Regions from separate parts of the Homo sapiens genome. Here regions 1 and 2 are each linked to region 3. The links come from fine-mapping of genetic effects on gene expression. A gene starts in region 3. Each other region holds a variant in brackets. All regions are shown on one strand. Distances are from middle to middle.

Region 1 (10,151 bases), 870 kb before region 3:
TCACACCTGAAATCCCAGTGCTTTGGGAGGCTGCGGTGGGAGGATTGCTTGAGGCCAGGAGTTCCAGGCCAGCCTTGGCAACATGGCAAGACCCTGTCTCTACAAAAAAATAAAAAATAAATATCAGCTGGGTGCAGTGGCTCACACCTGTAATCCCAGCACTTTGGGAGGCTGAGGCGGGCAGATCACCTGATATCAGTTCAAGACCAGCTTGGCCAACATGGTGAAACCCCTTCTCTACCAAAAATATAAAATTTAGCCTTTTGGTACTCTGAGCAGCACCATGGCGGTTGTTAAGAACAAGTGCCTTATGAAAGGTGGCAAAAAGGGAGTTAAGAAGAAAGTAATTGGTCCATTCTCTAAGAAAGATCAGTATGATGTGAAAGCACCTGCTATGTTCAATATAAGAAATATTGGAAAGACTTGGTCACCAGGACCCAAGGAACCCAAATTGCATCTGATGGTCTCAAGGGTCTTGTGTTTGAAATGAGTCTTGCAGATTTGCAGAATGATGAAGTTGCATTTAGAAAATTCAAGCTGATTACTGAAGATGTTCAGGGCAAAAATTGCCTGACTAACTTCTATGGCATGGGTCTTACCTGTGACAAAATATGTTCCAAGGTTGAAAAATGTTCAACAATGATCGAAGCTCATGTTGATGTCAAGACTACCGATGGTTACTTCTTTCTTATGTTTTGTGTTGGTTTTACTAAAAAACACAACAATCTGATACTGAAGACCTCTTATGCTTAGCACCAACAGTCTGCCAAATCCAGAAGAAGATGATGGAAATCATGACCTGAGAGGTGCAGACAAATGACTTGAAAGAAGTGGTTAATAAATTGATTCCAGACAACATTGGAAAAGATGTAGAAAAGGCTTGCCAATTTATCCTCTCCATGATGTCTTCATTAGAAAAATAAAAATGCTGGAGAACCCTGGGTTTGAAAGGCATGGAGCTTCGTGGTGATGGTAGTAGTTCTGGAAAACCCACTAGGGACGAGACACATGCTAAAGTTGAATGAGCTGATGGATATGAACCACCAGTCCAAGAATCTGTTTAAAGTTCAGGCTTAAAACAGTAGCAAATAAGAAGTCCTATTTGTGAAAAACAATCAAGAAACAACAATGAAAGAGCAAAATTAGCCTGGTGTGGTGGTGCATGCCTGTAATCCTAGCTACTCCGGAGGCTGAGGCATGAGAATTACTTGAACCCGAGAACAGATGTTGCAGTGAGCCAAGATTACACCATTGCACTCCAGCCTGGGCAACAGAGTGAGACTCTCTCCAAAAAGAAGGAAAAAAAAAGTATCTGGGCTGGTGGCATGCGCCTTTAGTCTCAGCTACTCTGAAGGCTGAGATGGGAGGATGGCTTGAGGCCAGGAGTAATTTGAGGCTGCAGTGAGCTATGATTGTGACACTGCACTCTAGCCTGGACTACAGAGCAAGACCCTGTCTCTTATACATACATACATGCATACATACATACATACATGCATACATACATACACACACACGCGCACATACATACATACCCAGGCTCTACCTCCGGTGATTCTGACTCAGTAGGGTGGAGTATCCCCTAGGGATCCTGCTATTCAGCCTGGTCTGGGATCCACTTTTCACTGGGAACTGAGACACTGGCTGTGAGCCTTTCTGTCCTGTGATGTAGAGGTCATGGCGATGCAGGTTCAAGCTTAAGAAGACCTGACTGTGCATTAGGTATTGTGCTGAACATCATCTCTTACTCTCACAGCAACATCCTTAGAAGGTTAATGATGTGTCCCCGCTCTACAGATGAGGAACTGAGCTTTCAGAGGAGTTTAGCTTGTTCAAAACTTATTCTTCGTATTGGAAACTTTGTACCCTTTGAGCAGTGTCTCCTATCCCCTACCTTTCCTCCACCCCAGCCCCTGATAACCACTGTCCTACTCTCTATTTCTGTGAGTTCAACTTCTTTAGATTCCACATATAATAAAATCATGCAGTATCTGTCTTTCTGTGCCTGGCTTATTTCACTTAACACAATGTCTTTCAAGTTCATCTATGTTGTTGAAAATGACAGGATTTCTTTCTTTTTTAAGAGTTAATAGTATTCCGTTGTGTGTATATAGTACATTTTCTTTATCCTTTCATCCACTGATGGACACTTAGGTTGATTCTATATCTTGGGTATTGTGAATAGTGCTGCAGTGAACATAGGAATGTAGGGATCCCTTCGACATATTGATTTCGATTTTTTTTTGTCTATACCCAGAAGTTGGGTTGCTGGATTATGTGTTTTGAAATCTATAGCACAGCAGCGTGACTATAGTCAATAATAATGTATCTTTCAAAATAACTAAGAGACTACATTTCAAATGTCTCATCATAAAAATTGTCAGTAAATTAGTGGATGGACATGTTAATTAGTTTGATCTAATCATCCCACATTGTATACACATATCAAAACATCACATAAATGTGTACAATTATGATTTGTCAATTAAAATAACGTTAGTTAAAAAAATAAGTAACTTGTTCAAAGCCCCAGTTGGGATTGATGGAGCCGGGACATGCACCAAGGCTTTTGCTCTCAGGCACACAGAGTCCTTGGGCCACGAATGTTGAAGCCCTACCTGAGATTTCTACTGAGATCAGTGTAGGGATTCAATGTCTCAGAATCATCCCATCCTCCAGGGCCCACAAGTCCATGACCTTTGCCTCTACCCCCGACCCTGCTGACCTGAAATGTGGCCCCTGCTTTCATTTCCGGGAGCATACAACACTTACACCAAGCATTGATGGGTTTTATTGACTTCATTTGAGACGTGGAGCCATGGAGAGGGTCCCATGATCCTTGCTTGGTGTTGGCCAATTCACTGAATTCTCTCTTTGACTTCACCCTTCCCTTTTCTACTCACCTCCTCTGTCATGGATTGCTCGGGGAATTCTGAGCCCTAGTTCCTTTGTTTTGCAGATAACCTTCACTCGTCTCTGCAACGAATCCCAAAAGTATGTAGTTGAGGTGACTGCAAGGTGCTTGACACGCAAGAGACTCCACAAATGGGATTCGGCCTCTGGAAAGTGGTGGTACTTCCAGATTTATGTGGATGTTACTTTGTTTTTCCCTATAAAATATATTCTTTAAACTATCAAGCTCTTGGCTCCTGGCTGCAGTCCTTTGCTGGTGGCAGTGGGCTGGGTACTGTCACCGGGGAGAAATGCTGCCCACTTAGAGAAAGAGAAACTGGTTCTCTTTAAGAGGCAGACGGAGGTTTCCAGTGCCAGTTTGTTTGGAGGCAAAATGGCTGTTGTATTAAAATTGCCCAAACTTGGGCTGGTGCCTTGTGTGTTTAGAGCTCAAAGCCATGATTGTTTTCATTTTTTTTTTTTTTTTTTTTTTTTTTTGGTGGTCGGTTTTCCATCCTTTTGCTTGGTAGGTTTCTGCTAATAGCTTCGACCTCAAGAGTCCCATTATACAGACACTAATAGCACCTACTATGTGTCAGTCTGTAGTGCCTACTATGTGCCAGGCATTGGAGATAATATAATGATGAACAAGATAAACATGGCACTTGGAAAAGAGAGTCTAGTTCCCACTCTCAGCCCACCCCAAAGAGAGGCCAGAATTGGGCTTCCAAAGATCTCAGATGCCCTTGCATCATCTCCATGAAGAGGGTGGGTGAAGCTTTGGTGTCTGAAGAGAATTTGGCTGGACAATCCCCAAGGGTTGGAATGATGGGAAGGAGCTGCCATCTGTGTTTAAGGTGAGAAGAGGGGAGTGGCTGGATATCAGAGGAAGCCAAGATGAAGAGAAGGTTTTTGTGAGTTCCTATGCATAGTGGAGACCTGTTACAGTGAGGGTCCCTGGGGCTGAGCCTGTGGGTCAGTGGAATGATGCTGTGAGGAGGGTCTTGTTATAGCAGATGGCCCAAAAAAGGCTGATGGATCATGAGCAGCTGGAAGAATGGAGAGTTCGGGGGAAGTAGTTCCTACCTGGCTTTCCAACAGTGTGTAAGCCCAGAATTCTTACATAAGCCCATGGAGAAGGGAAAGCAATGCTGGTAACGACAAGATTGAATTCTCCACCTGCCAGGCATCCAGGGACTCAGAGCAGATTTAAGTGAAGTTACAGAAATAGGAATGTGACATTTCCTACATCCGGATGTGCTGGAGCAAAATGTATTCCCTCTCTGGTTTGTGGGGAAGGAGAATGCTAACAGACAAGACTCCAGGTTTTCGCTCTTAAACCTGATGCCTAGAAATGCATTTTCTACTGGATGCAGACAGAAGCTCCATATAGACATATCCATTGCTGCATCGCTCATGCCTTGTGTTCTCCCTAATTTTCCCTTTTTAAACCACAGAGGAAGAAAATTCCAGCATCACTTCTGGCCTCTCAAGAGTGAGTTAGGTGGCCAGGTGGGGTTATTCTTGCCTGTAATCTCATAATGAAGGGGTGGCCTGCCCCTCCACACCTGTGGGTATTTCTAGTCAGGTGGGATGAGAGACAAAAAAGAAATAAGACACAAAGTATAGAGAAACAACAGTGAGCCCAGGGGACCGGCGCTCAGCATACCAAGGACCTGCACTGGCACCAGTCTCTGATTTCCCTCAGTTTTTATTGATTATTATCTTCATTATTTCAGCAAAAAGGAATGTAGTAGGAGGGCAGGGTGATAATAAGGAGAAGGTCAGCAACAAACATGTGAGCAATAGAATCTATGTCATAATGAAGTTCA[A/C]GGGAAGGTACTATGACTGGACGTGCGCGTAAGCCAGATTGATGTTTCTCTCCACCCAAACATCTCAGTGGAGTAAAGAATAACAAGGCAGCATTGCTGCAAACATGTCTCACCTCCCACCATAGGGCGGTTTTTCCCCCATCTCAGAATTGAACAAATGTACAATCGGGTTTTATACCGAGACATTCAGTTCCCAGGGGCAGGCAGGAGACAGTGGCCTTCCTCTATCTCAACTGCAAGAGGCTTTCCGCTTTGACTAGCCCATCTCAGCACAGACCCTTTATGGGTGTCGGGCTGGGGGACCGTCAGGTCTTTCTCATCCCACGAGGCCACTTTTCAGACTATCACATGGGGAGAAACCTTGGACAATACCCAGCTTTCAAGGGCAGGGCTCCTTGCGGCTTTCCATAGTGCATTGTGCCCCTGGTTTATTGAGACTAGAGAATGGCGATGACTTTTACCAAGTATACTGCTTGGAAACATCTTGTTAACAAGGCACGTCCTGCACAGCCCTACATCCCTTAAACCTTGATTTCATACGACACATGTTTTTTCAGCTCCAGGTTGGGTCAAAGTGGTTGGGGCAAAGTGGCTGGGGCAAAGCTACAGATTAACAACATCTCAGCAAAGCAATTGCTTAAAGTACAGATCTTTTTCAAAATGGAGTCTCTTATGTCTTCCCTTTCTATGTAGACACAGTAACAGTCTGATCTCTCTTTCTTTCCCCTACATATCCCCCTTTTCGTTTTGACAAAACCACCACCATCATCATGGCCCCTTCTCCCTGGTCGCTGTCTCTCTGGAGCTGCTGGATACACCTGTAGACTAACAATAGAAAAGTCAGACATACAAGGATTAATATAAAATTTGCAATAGTGGAATTTCCGGTGGTTTTAACCCAAGTGACAGGGGGCAAGAGGACGGTGTGGGTGCTGCGGCACCCGGGCAGTCTCCCACCTCCTTTGTGTCTTAGTTGCTGTTTCTCATAGTTTTCAGTCTTTCTCCTCACCTACTGACTCGCACCTTTTATCTCTTTGTCTCCCTTCTCTTATGGTCTCTCTCTCTCTCTCTTTTACACTATCTCTCTCCCCAATCTCACTTTCTGTGTCTGTCTCTGATCTCTGTCTCTTTTTCTTTCTATTCTTCTCCCTGGCTCTCCACATGTGCTGTTTTCTTGGTGGATGGTAACTTTATCTGTTCTTCTGATATCACCATTTTGTTCACCCTGCGGGTCGATGATGCTCGATTGTGGGTTTTCTGTCTCTGCGGAGGCACTTTCATTTGCATCTCTGATGGGTTCATTGTAGAACTTCAAACGTCTAGTGGGTATCCAAACAGGAAGCTGATTTTCTCCTGGTGAAACACGAGCAAAACCTCTCCCCCATGTTATCACCTTACCTATTTCCCATGTTTTGTTTTTGTTGTCTTTCCACCAAATCAGTTTTCCCTCATGTGGGCTGTTCTTTTTACCAGTAAAATGTTCTGCAGAAGTAGTGGTCTGATTTCTATGTATGTTTAGAAAATTTAAAGTATAGAGTGTTAGATTAAGTTGCATCTGGGGAGTGTTATACTCCTTACTGTCTTTTTCCTTTTTTTGTTTAACCAATTGAGCTTTGAATGTTCTAAGCAGGACAGGTAAGATCTGCATCTGGCACAGCCAGCCAGGTCTCCTTACCCTCTGCTTCCCTTTCTGCCTGTGACTGAATGGGTATGTCAGGGTCTAGTAGGGGTTCCAGGAGGAAGAAGCCTCATTAACTTCTATTGTGCAGCAATTGATGGCCACCCAACTTGAACAGTGGGGCTTATCACCTCATGTACTAAGACCGGAGATAGCTGATGCCAAGGTTGGCTAAATTAGTAGCTTGAGATGTTAGGTTTTTCATTTGAGGTTTCTATGCTGCTATTGTCTTCTGCTCTTGGTCACAGAGGCTGCCACAATCCGCATGTCAAGTCCTCATGTGACAATATCCAGAGACAGCAAGGAAGAGGTACAGTGTATTCCTGCATGTTTCTTAAAAAAATGTTTTTGATAGAGAATAATTGTACACATTTGTGGGGTCCATGTGAGATTCTGGCACATGCATGCAATGTGTAATGATCAAATCAGGGTCTTTAGGATATTAATCACCTCAAACATTGATCATTTCTTTGTGTTGGGAATATTTCAAATCTTATTGCTATTTAGAAATATACAATAAATCCATTTATCAGGATACAAAATCTATGTACACAAATCAGTAGCAGTGCTATACACCAACATCTACCAGGCTGAGAATCAAATCAAACCCTTTTATAATAGCTGTAAAAATAATATACTTAGGAATATACCTAACCAAGGAGGTGAAAGACCCCTACAAGGAAAACTACAAAACACTGTTGAAAGAAATCATAGATGACACAAAGAAATGGAAACACATTCCATGCTCATGGATGGGTAGACTCAATATTGTGAAAACGACCATACTGCCAAAAGCAGTCTACAAATTCAATGCAATTCCTATCAATATACCATCATCATTCTTTATAGAACTGGAAAAAAAAATGCCAAAATTCAATTGGATCTAAAAAAGAGTCTGCACAGCCAAAGCAAAACTAAGCAAAAAGAACCAATCTAGAGGCATCACATTACCCAACTTCAAACTATATTACAAGGCTATAGTCACCAAAACAGCATGGTGCTGGTATAAAAATAGGCACATGACCAATGGGACCGAGTAGAGAAGCTAGAAATAAAGCCAAATACTTAACACCCAACTGATCTTCAACAAAGTAAACAAAAACAAAGTAGGGAAAGTACACCCTATACAACAAATAGTGCTGGGATAATTGGCAAGCCACATGTAAAAGAATAAAACTGGATCCTCATCTCTCACCTTATACAGAAATCAACATAAGATGGATCAAAGACTTAAATCTAAGGTCTGAAACCATAAACATTCTAGAAGATAACATTGGAAAACGCTTCTACACGTTTGCTTAGGCAAACAGTTCATGACCAAGAACCCAAAAGCAAATGCAATAGAAACAAAGATAAATAGATGGGACTTAATTAAACTAAAAGCCTCCTGCACAGCATAGGAAATAATCAGCAGAGTAAGCAGATCACCCACAGAGTGGGAGAAAATTTTCACAAACTGCATCTGACAAAGGACTAATGTCCAGAATCTACAGGGAACTCTAATCAGCAAGAAAAAAATAATCCCATCAAAAAGCGTGCCAAGGACATGAATAGACAATTCTCAAAAGAAGATATACAAATGGCCAACAAACACATGAAAAAGTGCTCAACATCACTAATTACCAGGGAAATGCAAATCAAAATCACAATGCAATACCACGTGTAAAATAAACAAAAATAGGGCCAGGTGCGGTGGCTCACGCCTGTAGTCCCAGCACTTTGGGAGGCTGAGGTGGGTGGATCAGGAGGTCAGGAGTTTGAGACCAGCCTGACCAACATGGTGAAACCGAGTCTCTACTGAAAATACAAAAATTAGCCAGGCATGGTGGCAGTTGCCTGTAATCCCAGCTACTCAGGAGACTGAGGCAGGAGAATTGCTTGAACCCGGGAGGCAGAGGTTGCAGTGAGCTGATATCGCACCACTGTACTCCAGCCTGGGTGACAGAGCGAGACTCCATCTCAAAACCAAAACAAAAACAAAAACAAAAAAAGCAAAAATTGATGTTGGCACGGACGTGGTGAAAGAAAGCTTTTACACTGATGGTGGGAATGTAAGCTAGTACCACCACTATGGAAAGCAGTATGGAGATTCCTTAAAGAACTAAAAGTAGATCTACCATTTGATCCAGCAATCCCACTGCAAGGTATCTACCCAGAGGAAAAGAAGTCATTATATGAAAAAGATACTTTTGCACACGTTTACAGCAGCAAAATTCACAGTTGCAAAACTATAGAATCAGCCCAAATGCCCATCAACAATTAGTGGATAAAGAAAATGTGTATATATATATGTGTGTGTGTATATATATATATATATGTGTATATATATGTGTGTATATATATATATGTATATATACCATAGAATACTACTTAGCCTTATAAAGGAATGAAATAATGGCATTCATAGGAACCTGGATGGAGTTGGAGACCATTATTCTAAATGAAGTAACTCAGGAATGGAAAACCAAACATTGCATGTTCTCACTCGTAAGTGGGAGCTAAGCTATGATGATGCGAAGGCACAAGAATGAAACAGTGGACTTTGGGGGCTCAGGGGGAAGGTGGGAGGGGGTGAGAGATAAAAGACTATACATTGGGTAAACTGCTTTGGTGATGGGTACGCCAAAATTTCAGAGATCACCACTAAGGATCTTATCCATGTAACAAAATACCACCTGTTCCCTAAAAACTATTGAAATTTAAAAAATATATACATACAACAAATTGTTGTAGTCACTTTCTGTGATAATGAACACTAGATCTTATTCCTTCTATTATATATTTTTATACCCATTAATCAACTTCTTTTCAAACCCCTCCTATTCCCGGCCTCTGGTAACTATCATTCTACTCTTTATCTCCATGATATCAATTTTATATAGCTCCAGGGCACACAAGTCCATAACTGCGGTCTCTATCCCTGACCCTGCTGACCTGAAACATGGCCCCCACTTTGATTTCCAGGAGCATAAACTGCTCATATAAGTGAGAACATGCAATAGTTTTCTTTCTGTGCATGGCCTAGTTCACCTAACTTTATGACCTTTAATTCCATCCATTTAGCTGAAAATGACAGGATTTCATTCTTCTTTATGGCTGAATACTATTCTATTGTGCGTATATTCCCATTTTCTTTATCCATTCATCCATTGATTGACACTTAGATTGATTCCATATCTTGGCTATTGTAAATAGTGCTGCAGTATATATGGGGGTACAGATATCCCGTTGATAGACTGATATCCTTTTTTTTGGATATATACCCAGGAGTGGGATTGCTGGATCATATGGTAGATCTGTTCTTAGTTTTTTGAGAAATCTCTGTACTTTTTTTCATAATGGCTGTACTAATTTACATTCCCACCAACAATATACGATAATTTTCTTCTCTTCACATGCTTGCCAGCATTTGTTGTGCTTTGTCTTTTTAATAATAGCCATTCTAACAAGTGTGAGATGATATCTCACTGTGGTTTTGATTTGCATTTCCGTGATGATTAGTGATGTTGAATATTTTTTCATAAACTTGGTGATTTGTATATCCTCTTTTGAGAAATGTCTGTTTATTTTTTGATAGTTTCTTTTGCTGTGCAGAAGCTCTTTCATTTAATTAGATCCCATTTGTCAATTTTTGCTTTTGTGGCAAATGCGTTTGGCATCTTCACCATGAACTCTTAGCCAATCACTATGTACCGGATGGTATTGCCTAGGTTGTCTTCCAGGGTTTTTATAGTTATGGGTTTTACATT
Region 2 (10,151 bases), 300 kb before region 3:
AGCAAAATCCAGTGGCTTTGGCAATCAGGAAGTCTCAGGCAACCTTTGTGAAACAGCAGGTGAGAGGCAGCCACCGAGTTGTGAGATTAATGAAGGCCATGGTGGGCAGAAGTAGAAGGGGTAAATCAAGTCCCTCAGAGTTTGCTGGTTAAGAGACCAGGCGCAGCAGCTTGCACCTGTAATCCCAGCACTTTGGGAGGCCAAGGAGGGCGGATCACTTAAGGTCAGGAGTTTGAGACCAGCCTGGCCAACATGGCCATCTCTACTAAAACTATAAAAATTAGCCAGGCCTGGTGGTGCATGCCTATAATCCCAGCTACTCAGGAGGCTAAGGCAGGAGAATCGCTTGAACCTGGGAGGTGGAGGCTGCAGTGAGCCAAGATCCCACCACTGCACTCCAGCCTGGGCGACAAGAGCGAGACTGTCTCAAAAAACACACAAACAAAAAAACACCATCTAGAAAGGTTAGCAAGATCACAGAAGGCTTTTGTTTGTTTTGTTGTTGTTGTTGTTAAATAGAAGTGATCTAAACATGTTATTGCTGAGTGAGTAGGGGGCGGGTGGAGAAAAATGGGGAGGTTTAGAGAATGGAATAAGGAGACAACCACAGGAGAGCCAAAGGGTGTCTGGGCAGCCAAATAGAACCCGGTGATATCAGCAGGCACCTTTGCCGTGGACCTGTCACCATGGGCAGTGACATTCCTTAGCATTTCAGAGGGAGGGACAGACTGGAGAAGAGGGCATTTTCCAAGGCTGAGGATTGGCAAGGCAAGAATGGCAGAGAATCAAGGGGGATTCTAGGCTGCTGGAAACTACTGGAAATTGGCTGGGAGCCAGAGCCAGGCAGTAAGGGAAGAGTGGTCAGTGGAGGGAAACAGAGGAGGGGAATAGGCTGGGAGAAGAATCCTGAATGGGGAGCGCTGGGGTTCCTGCATGCTGAGGACGCAGAACGCTCCCACAGTGGCGGTGGCGTGGTGGAGGGAGAGGGGGATGAGAGCACCATCAGAGAGGGCACTTCAGAGTGTGAGTTCTTGAACTCTCTCAAATAGCCCCTAATGATGGTGACAGGGGATGTGAGCTGCTCGTTTGTGTTTTGGCACTGTGTCCCACAGGCATCTTGTGAAAATGCCAGCACCACAGCACAGGGAGCACCTGGTAGATCACAGGGCACTGGCGTTTTCTGTGAGTGAGTCATTGGTTTTCCATCCAGAGCTGCTTCAGGAGATCCAATGAGTTTTGTTGGTTATCGAGGTTCTACCTCCTAAGAATGGCTTCAGAGTCAGAGGCCCAGAGGCTAACATGAGACTCTAAGGCATTGCAATGTCAAAGGGTGGAGGGTGTGTTATCTCTAGTATTCCTCATGTCCCCACAAGGATCGGGAGAGTGGGCAAGAGAAGACCCTCCTCTCCATCATCTCCAGATAGAATGTAAGGATTAGAAATCTTGTCATCATCTTGAGTGCTTAGAAACACACCTATGTTTGAAAGAATGAGCATAAAATGGAGAACTATCACTTGAGGCAGGGGCAACCTCTGGGGGAAGTGGGGCTAGAGGAGGCTCTGATGGGAGATGGCACAATACTCAGATCTTGCCAGTTTTCCACTTTTGCAAAGACTGACCTACCGTCCAAGACTTACAGGCCGCCTCATGATATGAGAGGCTCATTCAAGCACTGAGTTTACACACACATGCACACACACACTCTCACTTGCCACAGCCACCCTAAATGGGGAAGGGCAAAGGGAGGCCCTCTGTTCCCCTTAACCTAGAGGGCAAGGGCTAGTGACTCAGTCCTGGCTGGGCACTCCGATGGGCAGCTCCCTCTCAGCTTCCCCTTCTGCTGTGGAGCTACAACTGTCCCTGCCTTTGTTCCTTCAATTCTCAAGCTCCCTGACTCAGCCTCGTTCCTGAACTTCCCAGCAGGGGACAAAGCCCTTGTCAGTGGGGTGGTGTGGGGGCAGTGGCAGTGAGGGGGATCTGGGGGAAAGCTGTAGAGTCAGAGTTCCAGTCCTTTTCCCAGTCTCAACCTTCAGGGTCCCTCAGCCTTGCCAGTTCAGTGGTCACCTCTAGGCTCCTCCCCAACTTGCCCAGATCTCTCTCTGAGGCCAGACTGATGGGGTGGAAATGGTTAACTAGAACCTTCCTCCCACCCAGCTGGGCAAAGTCTGACACCTGGTGGCCAAGGTGAGTAATGGCCAGAAGGCCCCTTTTCAAGTCTTCCCGGAACTGCTCCAGAGCCTGGATGGCCAAGGTGAAAGAGGAGGTGACTAGAGAAGAAGGTGTGGAGGGTGGTAGGAGCAGGACAGAAGATGCAGTGGTAGAAAAACCCAGAGACCCCATCCTTTCCACTCAAGCTGCTGCGATGGAAGCACATTAGGCCAGAGAACCTGGACCAGGGGAAGAGGGAGTGTCTGGGAAGGCAGTGAGGGACTAGGAAGGACTGCCTGAAAGAATTCTGGCCCACAGGGTGAGGAATGGGGCCCACGGTGTGTGAGTATGTTGGGGGCCGGGGCCAGGGGTATTCTGGCTGCCCAGAATCTCCTGAGTGGGACTGACTTTCAGCTCAGGGTGGGTGGCAGGGCCCAAGGGCCTGAGGAAGGGGGGTACTGGCGAGAGGGAAGAAGAGCTGGATCCACCCCACAGCCCACTGGGTCCCAGGCAGCTGCTCCCCTCTCTCCACCTGCCTCCAGCTTCCCAGCTCTACCTGGCTCTCCCCACAAACCTCATGGTGAGGTGGGGGAAGGGAATGCAGGTGCAGTGCTGAGGCCCCCATTCTACCACATTGTCTGAGCTAAGCCAGACCTAATCCTTCCCTTGAGTGCAGTCAGCGGTGGGCCTCAGCCCCTGGGAAGGTGCCGGGTTCCTGTTTCAGTTCTTTTCTCTCCTGGACCCCCAGGACTCTGGGCTTGGCCCTGAAGCAAGGGTCTTGGGTATTGTTACCAGGCTGAGGTGCAAAGGTCACTCCTACTAGTCTCATCACCAGCCTCTGGGTGTCGGGGCTGACACAAGGGTCTCAGGACATTCCCCCAGGGAGAGAGAACTCAGCACCCAACCCAGAACTCTGGCCTGGCCATCCAGTCTGAAGCCTGAACAGGCTCCAAGACAGCAGTTTAGGGAATGAGGCCAGGATGCTGCCTGAGTAGGTGAAGGGGTTCTAGGCAAGAAGGTACAGAAGGTGGATGGGGTTGGACAGCAAAGAAGGAAAAGACCTGAGGACAGGAAGGTCAAGGTCCAGCCTAGTCCTCAGCGCACCTTAGGGATTCAGGTGCTGAGTCAGGGCATGCCAGTTGGACAGGGATGGTTCCAAAATCCCTGGGTGCCAACTCTTTCCTAGGGGCTCCACCCTACTGCCATCTAAGAGAGAGCAGCAATGCTGCCTGCAGAGAGTTCCCTCAACTCCAAGGCAGAAAGCCAGGCCTAGGGTGCCTGCACTTGAGCTGACCACTCTGAATCTTTTTCTTGGGTGTGGGGGTAGCTGAAGCCTGAGGGAGACATCTTCCAGCCTGGGTTGGGGCCTGTGCCAGGCAAAGCTGGGGAAGCTGGCAGGGACAGCCCAGCCAACATCTACAGAGCAGCTCAGGATGCCAGAGGCTGCCCAAGGAGAAAAGGCAATAGGCCCAGGCGGTGGTAGGAGCTACTGTGGCTGCCCAGCGGCACACCCCATTTCACGCTCCCTGGGCGGTGGCAGGGCCCCACGGCTATCAGCTTTCAGGGGTGGGAGGGACTGGGAATGAGGAGGGGTCTGCCCCACCCATGGCTCCCTACTCCCTCAGGGCTTGGTGGACTCAGGAGGTGGGTGCCACACACCTCTGGAAACAGCCCAGGAACCCTTGCCAAGACCCTCTGGGGAGGGGTAGTCAATCCCCCAGAGCCTAGACGCCATCCCTACCTAGCATGCTCAGCACCTGACTGGACTCAGCACCTAGGCCCTTCCCAGCCCTGGTAGACAGGGCCTCCCTGCTTCCATCACTAACTCCGCAGGGACACTGTCTCCCTGAATGTGGGCCCCACTTAGTCCGCAAGGCAGATGGGGGGATTAGACTAGGCCCAGCCCAAACAATACAGCAGAAAGGGCCCTCCAGCTCCATGCAGTGCCCCCACAAGCTCCCTCCTCTAGGACGCCGATGGGGAGAGCCAGGCAGGACGTGGACCCTGAAGACATGGCCTGCTCCTCTGCCTCCCCTCTGGTGGTCTCCTTTCCAGAGCAGCTTCCTCCCTTGTGCCCACGTGTACCAGTGGCTTAGCCCTCTTCCAGTGCAGAACACCCAGACCCCAGAGCAGGGAAAGGAGGAGGCAGAGGCCTCTGAGCAGGCAGCAGCCCAGGAGTCTGTGCCCCACCCTCCCAGTATCCCTGGAAGGAAGAACCGGATGGGATCTCTGGAGGGTGATTAGAGCTGGGCTGGTCCCTGTGCTGGTTCCCAGACTCCCACTGGCCAGTACTTTTGCCTCCTGCCAGGAAGTTGGTGAGGGGGAGGCAGCAGTATGGGTGAGTCAGTGATGACAGGAGCCCAAGGGACAAAGGTCATGGGTGGAGAATTGAGAGACATTGTTTACAGCAGTCCACCTCCTCCAGGAGGCCTTCCAATGCTAATCATCCCTGTGGTCCTAACCAATCTCTGACCCACCCTTTCCCTCTTCTGGTAGGAATTATAGCCTCTCACTGACAACTGTGCATCTGTCTGCCTTGTGACAGTGAGCTCCTGGGGTGCAAGAGAGACTGTGGTTTGATTGGGGCCCTACAATGCCTGTGACTATCAGCAGTGATAATCATTTAGCTATACTTCCTACTTTCAAAAACTTTTTGACATCTATTTTAATTAACATGTGGGAAAGTGCTTAGAACAGTACTTGGCACATGGTACGTGCAATGAGTGTTAGGTTTATTATTAATATTTTCTGCTCAGACTCACATTATTGTGAGAGACAGGGCAGATTTTGCCAGTGAAGAACTAGGGATCCAAACACATTGTGGTGGGGGGACCAGACCCTTGCTCTGCCTTCCTACTCAGTATGGAATCTTCCTGACTGGTGGGGCGGGCCGGACACGACTTGGGACCCCAGGAGAGTCAAAACGGCAAACACTTACTCGGACTAAGAGTGGGCAGCATCTTTGGGCACAGACTGTGAGAAAGGAGGTTTCAGAACCCATGGGCTTCTCCAGCCAGGTCTCCTGGGGCCAGTGGGGGTTGGGTGGGAGCCGGGAAGGGGCCTGGATTAGCCCAAACTCTCTTCAGACCTCCAGACCTGCCCCCACAAGGCGGGGCGGGCCAAAGGACCGAGTGAAGGCTCCAGCTGGACTCTAGGGAGTTACAAACTGGCCACGGGGATTAGCGAAGCTGAAAAGAACATTTGCCTAGGAAGGGAAAACGGGAAGTGAGAGGCTGAAGATAACTCTCCTGAAGTCTCTCGGGACCCACAGCAGACCAATGGGGGCCGGGGAAGGTGGTGAAGTCGGGGCATC[C/T]CGACAGGTCCCCCGCCCCAGCCTGCCCCTCCTCCCGCGGCCCACAGCTGAGGCACCGCCCCGCCCCTCACCCTACACTGCCTACCATTGGCTAGCGCCAGGGCCCCGCCCCGCATAGGCGGCCTGCCATTGGCTGAAGTCTTTCCTGTTTGCGTGCTTTTGGGGGTGGGGGAGGCGTCCCTCCCTGGACCCCGGCGACTTCCTCTCTCGGTTTGTCTGGGTCATCTTGTCTGCCCGCCGCTGGCCTGGCCCCGTCTGTCTCTCTCAGCAGCTGTCTTTCTCGCGCCCACTGGCCGGTCTCTCCTCTTCCCCGCAGTTGCCTCCTTCTCTGCCTGCCTGGGTGGCCGCCATGGGCCGGAAGCGGCTCATCACTGATTCCTACCCGGTTGTGAAGAGGAGGGAGGGGCCCGCTGGGCACAGCAAGGGGGAGCTGGCACCCGAGCTAGGTCTCTGAGGTGTGAGGGAGGCAGGAGGAGTGGACACGGAGGGGCCTAGAGGAGGCCCCTAGAGGGGCGGAGGGGCCGATGGAAAGGGAAAGGTGGCCTGTCCTCCCCTCCCGACACCAGGTCTAGCTGCGGGGTGGCAGAGGCAAAGCGGTGGTGAGGAAGGCTGGGAGGTGAGGGGCAGGAGACTGAAGCCAACCTCGTACTGAAGAGCAGCTGTCATTGCAGGGGAGGAGCCCCAGCCCCGCGACGAGGAGGAAGCGGAGCTGGAGCTGCTGAGGCAGTTTGACCTGGCCTGGCAGTACGGGCCCTGCACCGGTGAGAACCCACCCAGCCCCACGGAGGCGCCTCTCCCAGCCAGTCACCCACACGTCTCTGAAGTCACCCAAGCGCTTGCGTGACTCTGACCCTCAGGAACTGTCTCCCCCCAACACACACATTCTCCAGCTCAGACTCTACCCCACCCCCCACAAGTCTCCAGAGTCTTCTTCCCACCCTGGCAGGGATCACACGGCTGCAGCGCTGGTGTCGGGCCAAGCAGATGGGCTTGGAGCCTCCCCCAGAGGTGTGGCAGGTGCTGAAGACCCACCCCGGAGACCCCCGCTTCCAGTGCAGGTCAGAGACAGGCCGGGAGGGCTTTCAGGGGAGCCAGGGCCTTCTCCAGGCACTGTCACCCTGCTGTCCTGACCTGAGGGAGAAATGGATGGAGGGTTGGAAGGCCTTGCTGAACAGGCAAGAAGATTCTATGAGGTGCCTGGCTCAGGAGGACACGCCACTATAATAATTCTTTTTTTTTGAGACAGAGTCTTGCTCTGTTGCCCAGGCTGGAGTGCAGTGGCGCGATCTCGGCTCACTGCAAACTCCGCCTCTCGGGTTCACGCCATTCTCCTGTCTCAGCCTCCCAAGTAGCTGGGACTACAGGCGCCCGCCAACACGCCCGGCTAATTTTTTCTATTTTTAGTAGAGACAGGGTTTCACCGTGTTAGCCAGGATGGTCTTGATCTCCTGACCTCGTGATCCCACCCACCTCAGCCTCCCAAAGTGCTGGGATTACAGGCGTGAGCCACCACACCCGGCCAATAATTCTTACCTCTACAAGCTAGTGGGGGGCAAAGGTACACCCAGGACCCAAGGAACTATCTATTTAGAACTGAGGGGTTTCCCAAGGACTATGGGCATGGCCAAGAATAAGCTGGTGAAATCAGATCCAGGGACTCAACAACTGATTCTCTGTTTCTCTCTCTCTCTCTCTGGGGTATCCCTCCCTCCCACCCCATCTTCCACAGTCTCTGGCATCTCTATCCCCTATGAGGCACCACGTAAGACCTCCTGCCCTTAGCTCTCTTGCTCACCACCCAAGAACCTCAGGACAGAAGCGAGAGCCCATTGCTCCTGCTCAGCTCAGCCCGGCTGCGGAGGAACCCTTGGCAGGCAGAACCTGGAGGTGTCAGAGGCTCAACTCCTCCATCTAACCAGCAGGCTCCCAGAGTCCCCGGAAGAGCCTGCGCAGCTGAAGCAGAGTGCTTCTAGATGGAGAGTGGTCACTGGGGAAAAGGACCTGGCCATCACCTTCCAATACCTGCTGCCTGTCTCCCTGACCCATGATCTGGCAAGTTAGGCACAGTCAGACATGGACAGTTGATCCATGAGGAAAAGATGCTCTCCCACCTAAGGCCAGGAATCTGAGAGCAGGACTGGCTGAGCTCCCAGGGCAAGGGGTTCACTAATGCTTATCAATAAAGAATATTGAGCCTGGAATCCTGACCTTCAGTCCTTTACTGTGGCCCTGCTTTGACTGGCAGTCCCTAGCAAGTTAGGAGATGAGAGAGGCACCACTACAGCTCTTTTCCTTCAAGAAAGTCCTAGGCCGAAGAGGGAGGAGACAGTCATCTTGAGACGGATCAAGTCCTCGGAAGAGCTGAGCGACCTCTGGTGCCCCCTGGTGGCCCACAGGGAAACTACTCATGACTCACCTTCTGGAGCAGCCAGGGAAAACCTACCTGACTAGCCAGCCACCTGCCTTGCTAAGCGGTGCCCACCTCACAAACATGGGTGCTTTGCCAGAGAAGGACCCCTGGGGTCCATAGCTCATGAAGTCCAAACATATCTATACATTCCCAGCAAGCACCTCTGGCTTCCCACATCGGGGGCCACCTTGATCCAAAGCAGGGCTGGCGAGGGTCTCAACTTGCAGGACCTGCTCAGACATGACCATCATCTGAGGGGCTTTGGTAAGAAACTGATGGCTGGGCGCGGTGGCTCACACCTGTAATCCCAGCACTTTGGGAGGCCAAGGAGGGCGGATCACGAGGTCAAGAGATCGAGACCATCCTGGCTAACATGGTGAAACCCCATCTCTACTAAAAATACAAAAAATTAGCCAGGTGTAGTCCCAGCTACTCAGGAGGCTGAGGCAGGAGAATGGCGTGAACCCGGGAGGCAGAGCTGGCAGTGAGCTGAGACCGCATCACTGCACTCCAGCCTGGGTGACAGAGAGAGACCCCGTCTCAAAAAATAAAAAAATACAAAATAAAGGCTGGGCGCAGTGGCTCACGCCCGTAATCCCAGCACTTTGGGAGGCCGAGGGAGGTGGATCAGGAGGTCAGGAGATCGAGACCATCCTGGCTAACATAGTGAAACCCCGTCTCTACTAAAAATACAAAAAAACTTAGCCAGGCCTGGTGGCGGGCACCTGTAGTCCCAGCTACTTGGGAGGCTGAGGCAGGAGAATGGCGTGAACCCGGGAGGCGGAGCTTGCAGTGAGCCGAGATCGCGCCACTGCACTCCAGCCTGGGCGACTGAGCAAGACTCCATCTCAAAAAAAAAAAAAAAAAAAAGAAAGAAAAAAGAAACTGATGGTGCTGGGGGATGGAGGAGAACTGGCTGGAGCCAGAAACAATGCCCAGGGGACCCAGGGTCAGGGTATGACATGGAGAATAGAGTCAGTAACCGCTTCTATAGTGTTACCTTCATCTACTGTGGCAGCCCTCTATCCTGGGGGTAGATGGAGGCAGCACTAGTAAGTTCTTGGAAACAGGCCTAGAGGGCAGCTAAGTGGCCTGTGTAGCCCCCGTCTGAGCACTGATCATGTCTCAGGTACTTTAAATGTATTACCTCGAATCCTCCTAAAAAACCTTCCAGGTAGGTTTTACTGAGGGGGAACTGAAACTAAGAAAGGTTAAGTAAAGTTGCCCAAAAGCACACAGCAGGCAAGAGGCAGTGCAGTGACCAGGGGCCACTTGCATTAACCTCTTCCAGACTATGCCATACCTCCTGCCCAGCTGCTAAGCACTCACTATGTGCCAGGCACCAAAGGTCCCCTTGGGGTATTACTAATGGTCAGGAGATGGGCAAAAACAAACACGTAAGTTAATTATGACAGGTAGCAGTCAGTAGTAAGCAAAATCAGAGTTGGGATCAGAAAGGGTCCAAGGATGCCAGGGGCGCTATGTTAGAGAGACTGGTCAGGGAAGGCCCTCTGCTAAGGTGGCATTTGAGCAGAGACTTGAAGGAAGGAAGGGAGCAAGGTCTGCATCTGAGGGTTCCAGGCAGAAGGAGCAACAAGGAGAAGCTTCCTGAGGAAGGAGTGTTTCCAGCCTGCTCCAGGAAAGGCACTGAGGAGGCCAGTGAGGCTGGGGGCCAGGGAGTGAGGAAGGGTAGTGGGAATTGAGGGCAGACAGGCAGCGGGCTGGTCCCTAGGGCCATGATAAGAAACTGGATTTGATTCTGAGTGAGAGGGGAGGATACTGGAGGGCTTGAAGCCAATAAATGACAGAGTCAAGCTTATGTTTCGAAAACATTACTCTGTTGGTGGAAAACAAGATTGTGGAGCTGGGGAAAACAGAGGTAGCAAAACCACTCAGGAGGCTACTGAAGTTGGCCTCATGAGAGCTGAGGGTGATCTGGACCAGCGTGGGGAGGTGGACTGCTCAGAAGTGGCCAGGTACGCTCTGTATTTTTAAGGAAGAGCTGACTGGCAGGACTTGCCTATTGGTCGACTGTGGGATTTAAGAGGGAGGAGCCAAGGATAACTCCAAAGGTTTTGGTTTGGGCGACTGGAAGGACAGAGTTCTCATTACTAAGATGGGAAGACTTGTGGGAAGGGTGGGGCAGGAATCTGGAGCTCCATCTTAGACATGCTGAAGTATCTGTGCCACTTCCAAAGGGACATGGGGTATAGGCAGTGGATATGTAAGTCTCGGATTCTGAGGCATTCTAGGTTTAAAATATAAACTTGGGAATCTTTT
Region 3 (10,151 bases):
GATGGTTTAAAAGTGTGGTGCTTCCCCCTTCTCTCTCTCTCCTGCTGCCACATAAGAAGTGCCTTGCTTCCACTTCACCTTCCACAATGATTGTAAGTTTCCTGAGGCCTCCCCAGCCATGCAGAACTGTGAGTCAATTAAACCTCTTTTCTTTATAAATTACCCAGTCTCGGGTAGTTCTTTATAGCAATGTGAAAATGGACTAATACACCCAGCCCCTCCGCAGCTTCTGACCTTTGTCCTAGAGTAGGGGCCTGTCATTGTGAAGGGCACTGGTGCCCTTGCATCTGAGCTCCCAGCTTGACCACCCACTCAGTCACCTTCTTGATCTGAGCTGCAAGGCAGCCTGCTGGAAATCTCTTGGGAGACATGTTTCAGTGCTTTGCAAATGCCCATGGTAATGACACCACCACCCACCATTCTCTAAGGATCTTCTGTGTGTGGCTGTGTACTGGCACCATCTCCGATCCTTGCAAGCTCGGAACGTCAGTACAACCTTCACTTTCTGATGATGCCCAGAGAGAGGAAATGACTTGTTCAAGGTGACACACTGAACAGCTGGCTAGTGACAGAGCCAGGTCTTTGTGGCTGCAGAGACCAGGCCTTGTCCTCAGCCACCTGCCTTTCCTGAGGTTACCAACTCCAGTTCCCGGAGACAGAAAGGGGCTGGGTTTCCCCTCTGGCTTGTAACTGTCACAGCCCTTTCCCCCACTCGGGACGTCATCCTAGAGACTCTGTCTGTACCTTTTGTTGTGTTGTTCTTTGACCCCCAGGCAGGGTCACCCTCTGTCCATGGGATCAATGGCACCTAATTTTATCTGTTAAGCCGTCCTCAGCCAGAAAAGAAGGACTGGGCCTGTGCTGGACCAGGACGGAGATGACTCAGGCTCAGGTCTGCCCTCCAGGGGCTCACAGACAGAAAATGAATCATTACCAAGATGGGGGACCTGGCTCAAGAGGGAGTGTCGGGGCATCCCTGGTTAGGACACCCATGGGAGTCCAAGTGCGAACCAGGAAGGACCCAGGGGGCTCTAGCCAGCAGGGCCGGGTGCTCCCTGCCACCTCCTATCCCCATGCTGGTGTGGGGGCTGCTAGGCTTTGAACCTGTGGGAATGGTTGCAGCCACAAATGCCAGCCAGGACTGGGCAGAGGCTGGCACCCCAGCCTGGGGCTTCCCCCTGTCCTAGGAGCTCTCTCCACCTTGCCCTCCCCTGCTGCCCTGAATCCAGGGTTGGGTCACAGCCAGATGAGGGTCACTGAGGTCCCTCCAAATCCTCAGGCTGCTCTCAGCCCTTTGCTGTGTGCAGGAAGTCTGGGAGATGGGACTCCAGCCTCCTGGCTGCTGGCCCCTTGGGCTTCGAGGGCTGCCTAGAGGAAGAGTCTGGTGCTAGGGACAGGGGCAGGAGGAGGCTGGGTCCAGCAGGCAGAGCACTGGGGGCTGTGGAGAAGGCCCTGGTCGGGAGGGGGAAGACCTGGGCTCTAGATCAGTGCTGCCACTGCCGGGCCATGTGCCCCCAGGTAAGCCTCTGGGTTCTGGACTCAGTTTTCCCATCTGCAAAATGAAGCCTTTCCAACTCTTACACGTTGTGGGTTCTTTTAATTAATTTATTTAATTACATATATATATATATATTTATATATATTTTGAGACGGAGTCTCGCTCTGTTGTCCCCGAGCTGGAGTGCAATGGCGCGATCTCGGTTCACTGCAACCTCCACCTCCTGAGTTCAAGCGATTCTCCTGCCTCAGCTTCCCGAGTAGCTGGGATTACAGGCGCCTGCCACTATGCCCGGGTAATTTTTTTTGTATTTTCGGTAGACATGGGGTTTCACCATGTTGGCCAGGCTGGTCTTGAATTCCTGACCTCAGGTGATCCACCCACCTTGGCCTCCCAGAGAGCTGGGATTACAGGTGTGGGCCATTACGCCCGGCCCATTGTGGGTTCTTTAAATGAAGAGGACTCTCCTGCTCCAGGGAACTCAGAGCCCCCAGACGGGAGGAGCCTGGACAAATCCAGCCCATTTTCCTGGTGATAAGCATGCCCTCCCCCCATTTCTGGCCAGCCCCAGCATGTCCCTCAAAGCATTCACATCTTATCAACTGGAAGAGGCCCATTTCCACGTCATAACTCCTCTGAAGTTGGGATGGTCTCACCATCAAGGACATCTCAGAGCTGGTGGTGAGGCATCAGCCCTCCAGCCCCCGCCCATCAGGTGCCTTCCCCTGGGCCTGGGCCACCTGTCCCTGTGTGGTGCTCTTCCCCGGGTGCCCTCATTGTTGGGTTCCCATGGGCAGCATCTAGGGGCCCAGAAACATGTTTCCCCCAACTTAAAAAAATGTATGACTGGTCAAAGGAGGTGACACCAGCTCCGCAAGCTACTAAACAAAAGTGGCTCAATGCCACTGCAGCAGAAAGCACATGGGCCAAGGGTGGGAGACAGGCAGACAGATATCATCCTGATAAGAACTACAGTGTGATAAGAACTGGGGTAGGCCCGACCGTCCTGCTTGTGCTCAGATGCTCCAGCACCTATACAACCCCAGGGGCTTAGAGGATGCTGGGAAGAAAAGGAGGAAGAATGCCAGTTGCGGTGGCTCAGGCCAGTAATCCTAGCACTTTGGGAGGCCGAGGCGGGCAGATCGCTTGAGGCCAGGAGTTCGAGACCAGCCTGACCAACATGGCAAAACTCCATCTCTACTAAAAATAAAAAAATTGGCTGGGTGTGGTGGCTCACACCTGTAATCCCAGCATTTTGGGAGGCCAAGGTGGGCGGATCACCAGGTCAAATGATCGAGACCATTCTGGCCAACATGGCGAAACCCTGTCTCTACTAAAAATATACAAAAATTAGCTGGGCACGGTGGCACGCGCCTGTAGTCCCAGCTACTCGGGAGGCTGAGGCGGGAGAATCGCTTGAACCTGGGAGGCAGAGGTTACAGTGAGCCGAGATTGTGCCACTGCACTCTAACCTGGCGACAGAGCGAGACTCCGTCTCAAAAATAAAATAAAATAAAATAATTTTAAAAATTAGCTAGGCGTGGTGGTGGGCGCCTGTAATCCCAGCTACTTAGGAGGCTGAGGCAAGAGAATCGCTTGAACCCAGGAGGCGGAGGTTGCAGTGAGCTGAGATTGTGCCAATATCACTCCAGCCTGGGTGACAGAGTGAGACTCTTCTCAAAAAAAATAAAAATAAAAAAAAAGAAGAGATGCTGGAAGCAACTCCATGGACTCCCAGGACAACAGGGCTGAGAGGCGGCAGAGCAGGGGCCGCCTGGTGCCCGTGGAGTCTGCCTGGGCAGTCAGTGAGCATGTCAGGAAGGATTAACGGTGGGCATGCCTACAGCGCCAAGGACATGCCAGCTACCGCACGGGAGCTGCCTGTCAGCCTCCCCTGGGCTCCACTTCACCACTGCCCTACAGTCCCTCTACCCCATGGGGTTGTTGTGAGGAAACTGAGGCTCAGAGAAGCTAAGCAGGTTACAAAAGGGCACGGGGCTCAGAGGAGAGCAGAGACGCGGGCCCAGCAGCTGAGGCTACAGCTGGCGTGCTCCCACCCTCCAAGGCAGAGCCCATGGCATGTGCTTTCCAGCGGCAAGAGCTGGAAGGGAGACAATGTTTCCCAGGAGCGACATGTGCCAACTCTCCGTGAGTCCTTCCTGTGCACAGGCCGGGGCTGAGTGCTTGAGGTCTATTAACTCTCTGTCACAGTGACCCTGTGTGGTGGGCACTGTCACTCACCTGTGATGTAGTGAGGGACACAGGCACAGCAGGGTTAGGGGACTTACCCAAGGGCACACAGCTATAAGAGGCAAAGCCATAATTTGAACCTCGGCAGTCTGGCTTCCAAGCTCTCAGGCCCTCAGCGGAATTGTGTGGCCAAGTGCTGTCTTAGGATCTTGTGTGCACCCAGGTCGCCTCACTCAGTCCTTGTGACACCTCTCCCCGGTGGATGCCATTCCTCCGGCTTTACAGATAACATCACTGAGGCCTTCATTCCCAATGGCTGGGGCGGAAGAACTCTGCCCTGGACCCCAGGCCCCGCTGGGACACCCCTCGGAGGCCGGGTTAGGCGCACAGCCTGGGCCGCTCCGGCACGGACCTGTACACCCGGGCGCGCGAGCGGAACCGGGCGAGGCGGAGGCGCGGGGCACTCACCTCGGGGAAGGCCCCATCGGCGAAGACCATCAGCAGCGACGTCTTCCCGCAGCCGCCGTCGCCCACCAGGACCACCTTGACGGACCGCACGCCTGGTGGCGCCTCCTCACCCGCGGCCTGGGCCGCCGTCATCCCGGGGCCGGGCGCTGAGCGGGCGGGCGGGCGGCTGCGGCGCAGAGACCCAGACTGCGCGGGGCAGGCCCGGCGGGGCAGGAATGTGGAAGGGGCGGGGCGGCGGGAGGAAGTGCGAGCCGGGCGCCCCGAGAGCCAGGTGAGAGGCCCGGGCGGCTGGGCTGGGGCCCTTCCTCTCCAGGCCGTCTAGGTCCCTGAAGAAACGCTGCCCGAGCACCTACTGTGAGCTGGCCGCGCTGGGGCCACGGGAGGTCGGAAGGGAGAAGACAAACAGCGGGACCATGACAGTGGGGGCGGGGGTGTGCTCAGGGGCTGGGTCCCAGATCCCAGGCAGGAGCCAGTGACCTTTAGTGAATGAATGAATGAATGAATGAATGGTGCATTTCCCCAGGGGTCTCAGGACGCAGCACAACACAGGCGTTTCATGCCAGGTGGGAAGGGGATGACCCCCTTCACTGGCCCCACCAGGCCTGGCCTGCCCCCTCCCGCAGCACCAGGAAGCTCTGCTGCAGGTGGGCAGCCACCTGACACCGTGGCTGGCCACGATCTAGGGAAAGCGATAGAACCTTCCCTCTGTAAAGTGTGAGTGTTTCTTATTATTGCACCATGAGATGTCCCCCTGGTGCCCAAGGGCCCGGGGACCCTGAACTGTTTAAGACAAAATCCAGGCCCTGCCTTGAGAAGCCCACGGCTTAGAATGGTAGACACGCAGGACATCAGTGTGATCAGAACTACAACGGGAGTAGGGACAGGCAGCGGGACGGGAGTAGGGGAAAAGAGCTCCTCGCCCACGTTGAGGGAGTCAGGAAACCTTTCAGAGTCTTGAGGAAAAAGTGAAACACAGTCAGATGGGGGAGGGAAAAGGTGTTCCACCGGAGACAGCGGCACGTGCGAAGCTGCGGAGGCCGGAGCGGAATGCTGCCCCCCCACCCCGCCCCCGCAGAGGGTGAGGCTCGCTTGCACAGTGGTGCAGCATGAGGAGCTGGTGCTTGCTCAGTGGAGCACGTTGGATGCCAGCAGTAAATCCAGCATTGAACTGGGAACTCATTGTCACCTGATCTCTCCACTTCTCCTAATGGCCAGAGTTGAAATCTTTTAAAAATGGGCACAAGGGTCTTCCCAGATCTTGGACTGAGTGTTTCTATTGAAGCTTAAAAGAACAAGGGGCAGACGTCATTAGGTTCCCCCTAATTTATGCTGGTCATGACATCCCCCCTCATGGAGTTCCAAGTCAGGCAGGTGAAAAAGCACCTTCAACCTCCTTTAAACTCACTGTGGTCTAAAGAGGCAGCCAGGGCAGGAGTCACTAGGTGGAGAGGCAGAGCCCAGCTCCTTGACTCCTCTGCCCGGCTCCCGCTCCGGGCTGTGGTCTGCAGGCTGGATGGAGCCCCACTTGGAGGGAAGGATCCTCCCCAGCACAGCTCTGCCTTTCCAGGTGCCCCTTCCTCCCCGAAACTGCCACAGGGCTCGGCAGTGACTTGACACTGGGCTGGGCAGGTAGCTCCAGAGCAGGGCTCCCCGCCCCAAGGAGTGGTGAGAGGGGCCCCACCCCCTCGGATCAGCTGTCAGCATCTTCCTCCCAACTGCTGCTGTCGTCAGGCCTTGGGTGGCAAGGCTGGAAGGCAGGTGGGGCCAGACTGGGGGTGGAGGGAGCTGAGAGTCAGGCAGAGGCGTTTGGCCTTGGTTGCTATAGGGATAATCTCTGTAATGACACACTTGATGTTTGTCATGCTATACAGTTTCACTGAACATTTCCTAATAATAACAACACCCATTAGTGGATTGCAAGCCACGTGTAGGCACTGTTCCCTAGGAGGTAGGGACTCTTAGCTCCATTTCACAGATGAGGAGCCTGAGGCCCAGAGAGGCTAAGTTGTTGACTAACATCCACAGCTAGTAAGAGGCTGAACTAGAATTTGGATCCAGGCGTGACCCCAAAGCCAGGTGGTCTCCCTCCATCACGCCTCATCTGCACAATTGCAATTTCATTTAGCTCTCAGACCACGAGGTAGACCAAGCAGATGACCTGCTTCCTCCCATTTTACAGATTTGGGAACTGAGCCTCAGAGAGAGGCAGAGGGGTGTCTTAGACCAGCAGGACACAGCAAGGATTCAATCTCCTGACGTCAAGCCCCAGCCTCCGCTCCCCCACCATGCTTACGCTCCTGCGAGAGGGAGCTTAGTCACCAGGCCACAGAAATCGGCTCTGGTTGGCAGGGAATGTCCCTGAATCTCAGACATTGCTGGACCTGGGACCATACTGTTTTCCTGGAATTTATTTTTAGAGTGGTGGCCCAGGTCACACAGTCTGCCTGGCCAGGGTACTGTTTACTGTTTTAGTGTTTACTGAGGCTTCTCAGGACTTGCAGCCTGTGGGAGACTTAGGCCCCTCGAGGCCCCACCAACCCCAGGCCCAGATCTGTGGGGAGCCCAGCACCGTGGCCTACTGCCCTGAACCCTTCAAGGGCAGGGGCCAAGGCTCACCGTATCCCCTAGAGGAGTGCCTCTCTCAGGCTGGCACCCAGCTGTGGCTCAGGACGGTATGCCCAGTTGATCTCCTGGCCAGACAAACCAAAGGGACAAGAAAGAAAAAAACAGAGTGAGAAAGAGAGGAAGGAAAGACGGAAGGATGGACGGCAGAGGGGCTGGCTTAGAAGAATAAACAAACTGAAGAAATGAATAAAGGAACAAATACTTGCATGGATGACGAATACCACATGTGACATGAATGGGGAGTCTGTGGACAGGCAACCACTCTCCAGCCTCCGCCTACTCCAAGGCCCCCTGGCCTCACCCCTCTCCCCATTTTCTCACATCCCACCCCCATCCTAAGGCCAAATCCTATGCGGTCCTGATCGAGTCTCCACTGCCCTCATGTGGTCGCTCAGCTCCCTGCACAGTCATCACCTGGGGCTGCCTCCCTGCTTGGGGTTCCTGGCTTGGGGGTGTGGGGTGTTTGTGGATGGCTGAATGAAGGGGAGAGATACAGTCTTTCCCCTTGGAGTGGCTTGGCAGGGTGCACGGGCCCTGGTGTGTAGCTCCCGAAGCTCTTGGTTCCGCGTGCATCCCCTGTCCTCTGCTCTTTTTTTTTTTTTTTCCATGGGGAGTCTTGCCCAGGATGGAGTGCAGTGATGTGATCTCGGCTCACTGCAACCTCCGCCTTCCGGGTTCAGGCGATTCTCCTGTCTTAGCCTCCTGAGTAGCTGGGATTAGAGGCACCTGCCACCACGCCCAGCTAATTTTTGTATTTTTAGTGGAGACGGGGTTTCACCATGTTGGCCAGGCTAGTCTCAAGCTCCTGACCTCAGGTGATCCACCCGCCTCGGCCTCCCATAGTGCTGGGATTATAGGCGTGAACCACCGCGCCCGTCCCTGGCCCACATTCATCTGAAATACTGGATCCTAAGAGCCTTTGCCCTCAGCCTGAACTCCTCCACCCAAAGCCTTGACCTCGCATTTACTGAGCACCTACCTGTGCCGGACACTTGGCACATGTCATTTCATGCCATCCTATGAAGTATGTTCAATTCTTATCCTCCTTTGACAAGTGAGGAAACTGAGGCCCAAAGAGGTTGGATAATTTGCCCAAGGTCCCGCAGCTAGTAAGCAGAGAAGCTGGGATTTGGACCCAGGCCCTTGGGCTCCGGAGTCCATACACACAGAATGTCCAAAAGTCAGAGGTACAGGGCTCTTTAGAGGCCATCTTATCCAACACCCCCATTCTTCAGATGGGGAAACTGAGGCCTGAGAAGGGAAGGAACTTACACAGCAAGTGAGCAGCAGACTCAGCTTTACGCCAGGTGGAAACCAGAGGGCCTCTGCTCCCAAGTTTCTTTTTGTCTAGCCTGCCCAGACAGCTCCAGCCTGGCTGCCATCTAACTGGAGCCCCAGGCCACGGGGACGTGCCCTCCTGCCCTGGCCTCCTCTCCCTGCCAAACCATTATTGATCTTTCAGGTTGGGACGGAAGGGCTGATAATAGGGTGGGAGGGGTGGAGAGAGAGGAGGTCTGGTGGCCCCATCCTGGTGCTTATTAAGCCTTTTGATTTGTCCCTTTTGGGGGTCTGCAGGCACAGACAGATAGAAGAGAGGAAGGGAAGTTTGGAGCTTAGAGCTGCTGCCGACCGTGATGCAGTGGCTTGCTCTGCTTCTCCCACATGCAGGCCTAGCCCAGGCAATGCTGCTGGGCAGGTCAGAGACCTCCACACCTGTCCTCTTCGGTGGGGCTCCCAGACAGAGGGGGCCTGGGACCCTGGAGGTGTGTCCTTGGGCCCAGGGCTGGAGGAGGGGAGATGAAGGGGTGGGGAGGGATGGGACCCTGGATGTGGGGTGGCCTGAGAAAGGAGGGAAATAGGTTGGGAAGATTACAAGAGAGAAGAAGGAGGCAAGACAGCTTCTCAGAGCCTGGGTTGTCCCAGCTTCTCTCCAGGATGGCACCTCAGTTTGAGTCCTGCTGAATGAACCCAAACCTAAAGGCAGCTCAGAGGCCTCCTGCCTGCCCCTCCTGCCACTCACTGGCGAGGGTAACATTCACTGATGTCCCTCTGTGTCACCTCCAAAGCTGCTTAGAGTGACCCCTCCCTCCCTTGGACCTGCTCCTGCTCAAGACCCCACCATGGCTCCCCACTGCCAGCAGGATAAGGAGCTTCTCCCTGAGCTTGGACACACAGCCTCCACAGCCCAACCCCACCTGGCCTCTCAAGCCTCAGCCCAGCTGTGTCTCCCCAGACACTGTGACACCTTTGCTCAGGCAGTTTGAGACCCCTCTCCCTCCTCCATGTGTACAGTCCCCCTGCTGCAAAGCCAGCTCTCATGCTTCTACCTCCTCCAGGAAGCCCTCCCTGGTCTCTGCCCCTCTTACCGGCTCCTGCCACAGCCCGTCTCATTGGTTGCCTCAGAAGCTCTTCGGAGTCAGTCCCTGTGGTGGACAGGCCTCCCAGGAGCTGCTGGGAATTCTCCATCAGCTCATCCTTATCCATGCTTGATGTCCCACGCTTCTGATCTTCCAGGGGTGGGGAGGGGAAGGCAGCAGCCTGGGACCCAGCGGGGGTTTCTCTTATGCCCTCAGCCTTACATTCAAGGAGCTGGGGAAGGGGGCGTTGTTGCTGAGTGATCCAGAGCACTGGCTCTGTAGCAAAGACAGGCCGAGCTTGAGTCCCAGCTCTGTGACTTTCTGGCTGTGTGGCCTTGGGCTAGTTACCTAACCTCTCTGAGCTCTTTTCCACATCTGCAAAAAAGGGGATAGCAGCAGCACTTACTTTGAAGTGTTGCAGGCTGAACACCAGCACTCGCTGAATGTGGAAGGCCCTTCTACCCTTCAGAACTCCCCCTTGGCTCTCTTCTTCCCACCCTGCTCACTCCCTCCACCATCCCCCACTTTATTCTGGCCAAATGGATACACTGGCCAAGTTTTCGCCCCCTTGTGCCCTTTTGTATATGGGGTTCCCTGCTAGGAATGCTTCTCCTGCCGTGTCTACCTGATCTCCTCCTTCTGGCCCTGAAGCCTCAGCTGGGTGTCACCACCAGGAAGCCTTCCTTGATACTCCCCATCATCCTACTCTCTCCTGCCAGAGCTGGCTCAGTGGCCCCTCCTCTGAGCTTCCCAAGGAGTCTGATGCATTGGTCCTTCCTTTTTTTTTTGAGACCTTTTTTTGAGTCTTGCTCTGTCGCCCAGGCTTGAGTGCAGTGGCGCGATTTCAGCTCACTGGAGCCCCTGCCTCCCAGGTTCAAGCGATTCTCCTGCCTCAGCCTCCCGAGTAGCTGAGATTACAGGCACATGCCACCACACCTGGCTAATTTTTGTATTTTTAGTAGAGATGCGGTTTCGCCGTGTTGGCCAGGCTGGTCTTGAACTCCTGACCTCAA

Direction of the effects. Positions count from the first base shown, and alleles are read on the strand shown. Sizes are in standard deviations (SD) of each study's normalised expression. Not every link is listed here.
For the expression in whole blood of the gene that starts at base 4,344 in region 3, C is the high allele of the variant in region 2 and T is the other (large effect, 1.2 SD a copy in Lepik 2017).

What was found. PIP is the estimated chance that this variant, and not a neighbour inherited with it, causes the effect.
Region 1: its variant is fine-mapped to the expression of RHOD in minor salivary gland (GTEx, PIP above 0.99).
Region 2: its variant is fine-mapped to the expression of RHOD in whole blood (Lepik 2017, PIP 0.95).

Annotation. Positions count from the first base shown.
Region 1 is chr11:67,916,564-67,926,714 of GRCh38, reverse strand. The region is part of intron 3 of LOC112268076 (translation initiation factor IF-2-like); the gene reads left to right. It also overlaps the pseudogene RPS3AP40. Among named protein-coding and RNA genes, the nearest start is that of LINC02754, 37 kb to the right of the region's middle. The variant A/C (reference allele first, on the strand shown) is at 4,725.
Region 2 is chr11:67,349,059-67,359,209 of GRCh38, reverse strand. POLD4 (DNA polymerase delta 4, accessory subunit) reads left to right here and starts at 5,664. Exons shown (of 4, transcript NM_021173.5): 1 at 5,664-5,907; 2 at 6,133-6,222; 3 at 6,408-6,519; 4 at 7,191-8,438. The coding sequence starts at 5,811. The coding sequence ends at 7,215. All of the region lies in intron 2 of LOC100130987 (a long non-coding RNA gene), which reads right to left. RefSeq lists a silencer at 5,347-5,596 and enhancers at 5,777-5,826, 5,820-6,401, 6,402-6,984. The variant C/T (reference allele first, on the strand shown) is at 5,462.
Region 3 is chr11:67,051,040-67,061,190 of GRCh38, reverse strand. RHOD (ras homolog family member D) reads right to left here and starts at 4,344. Exons shown (of 5, transcript NM_014578.4): 1 at 4,157-4,344. The coding sequence starts at 4,288. RefSeq lists silencers at 4,206-4,275, 4,286-4,445 and an enhancer at 7,265-7,374.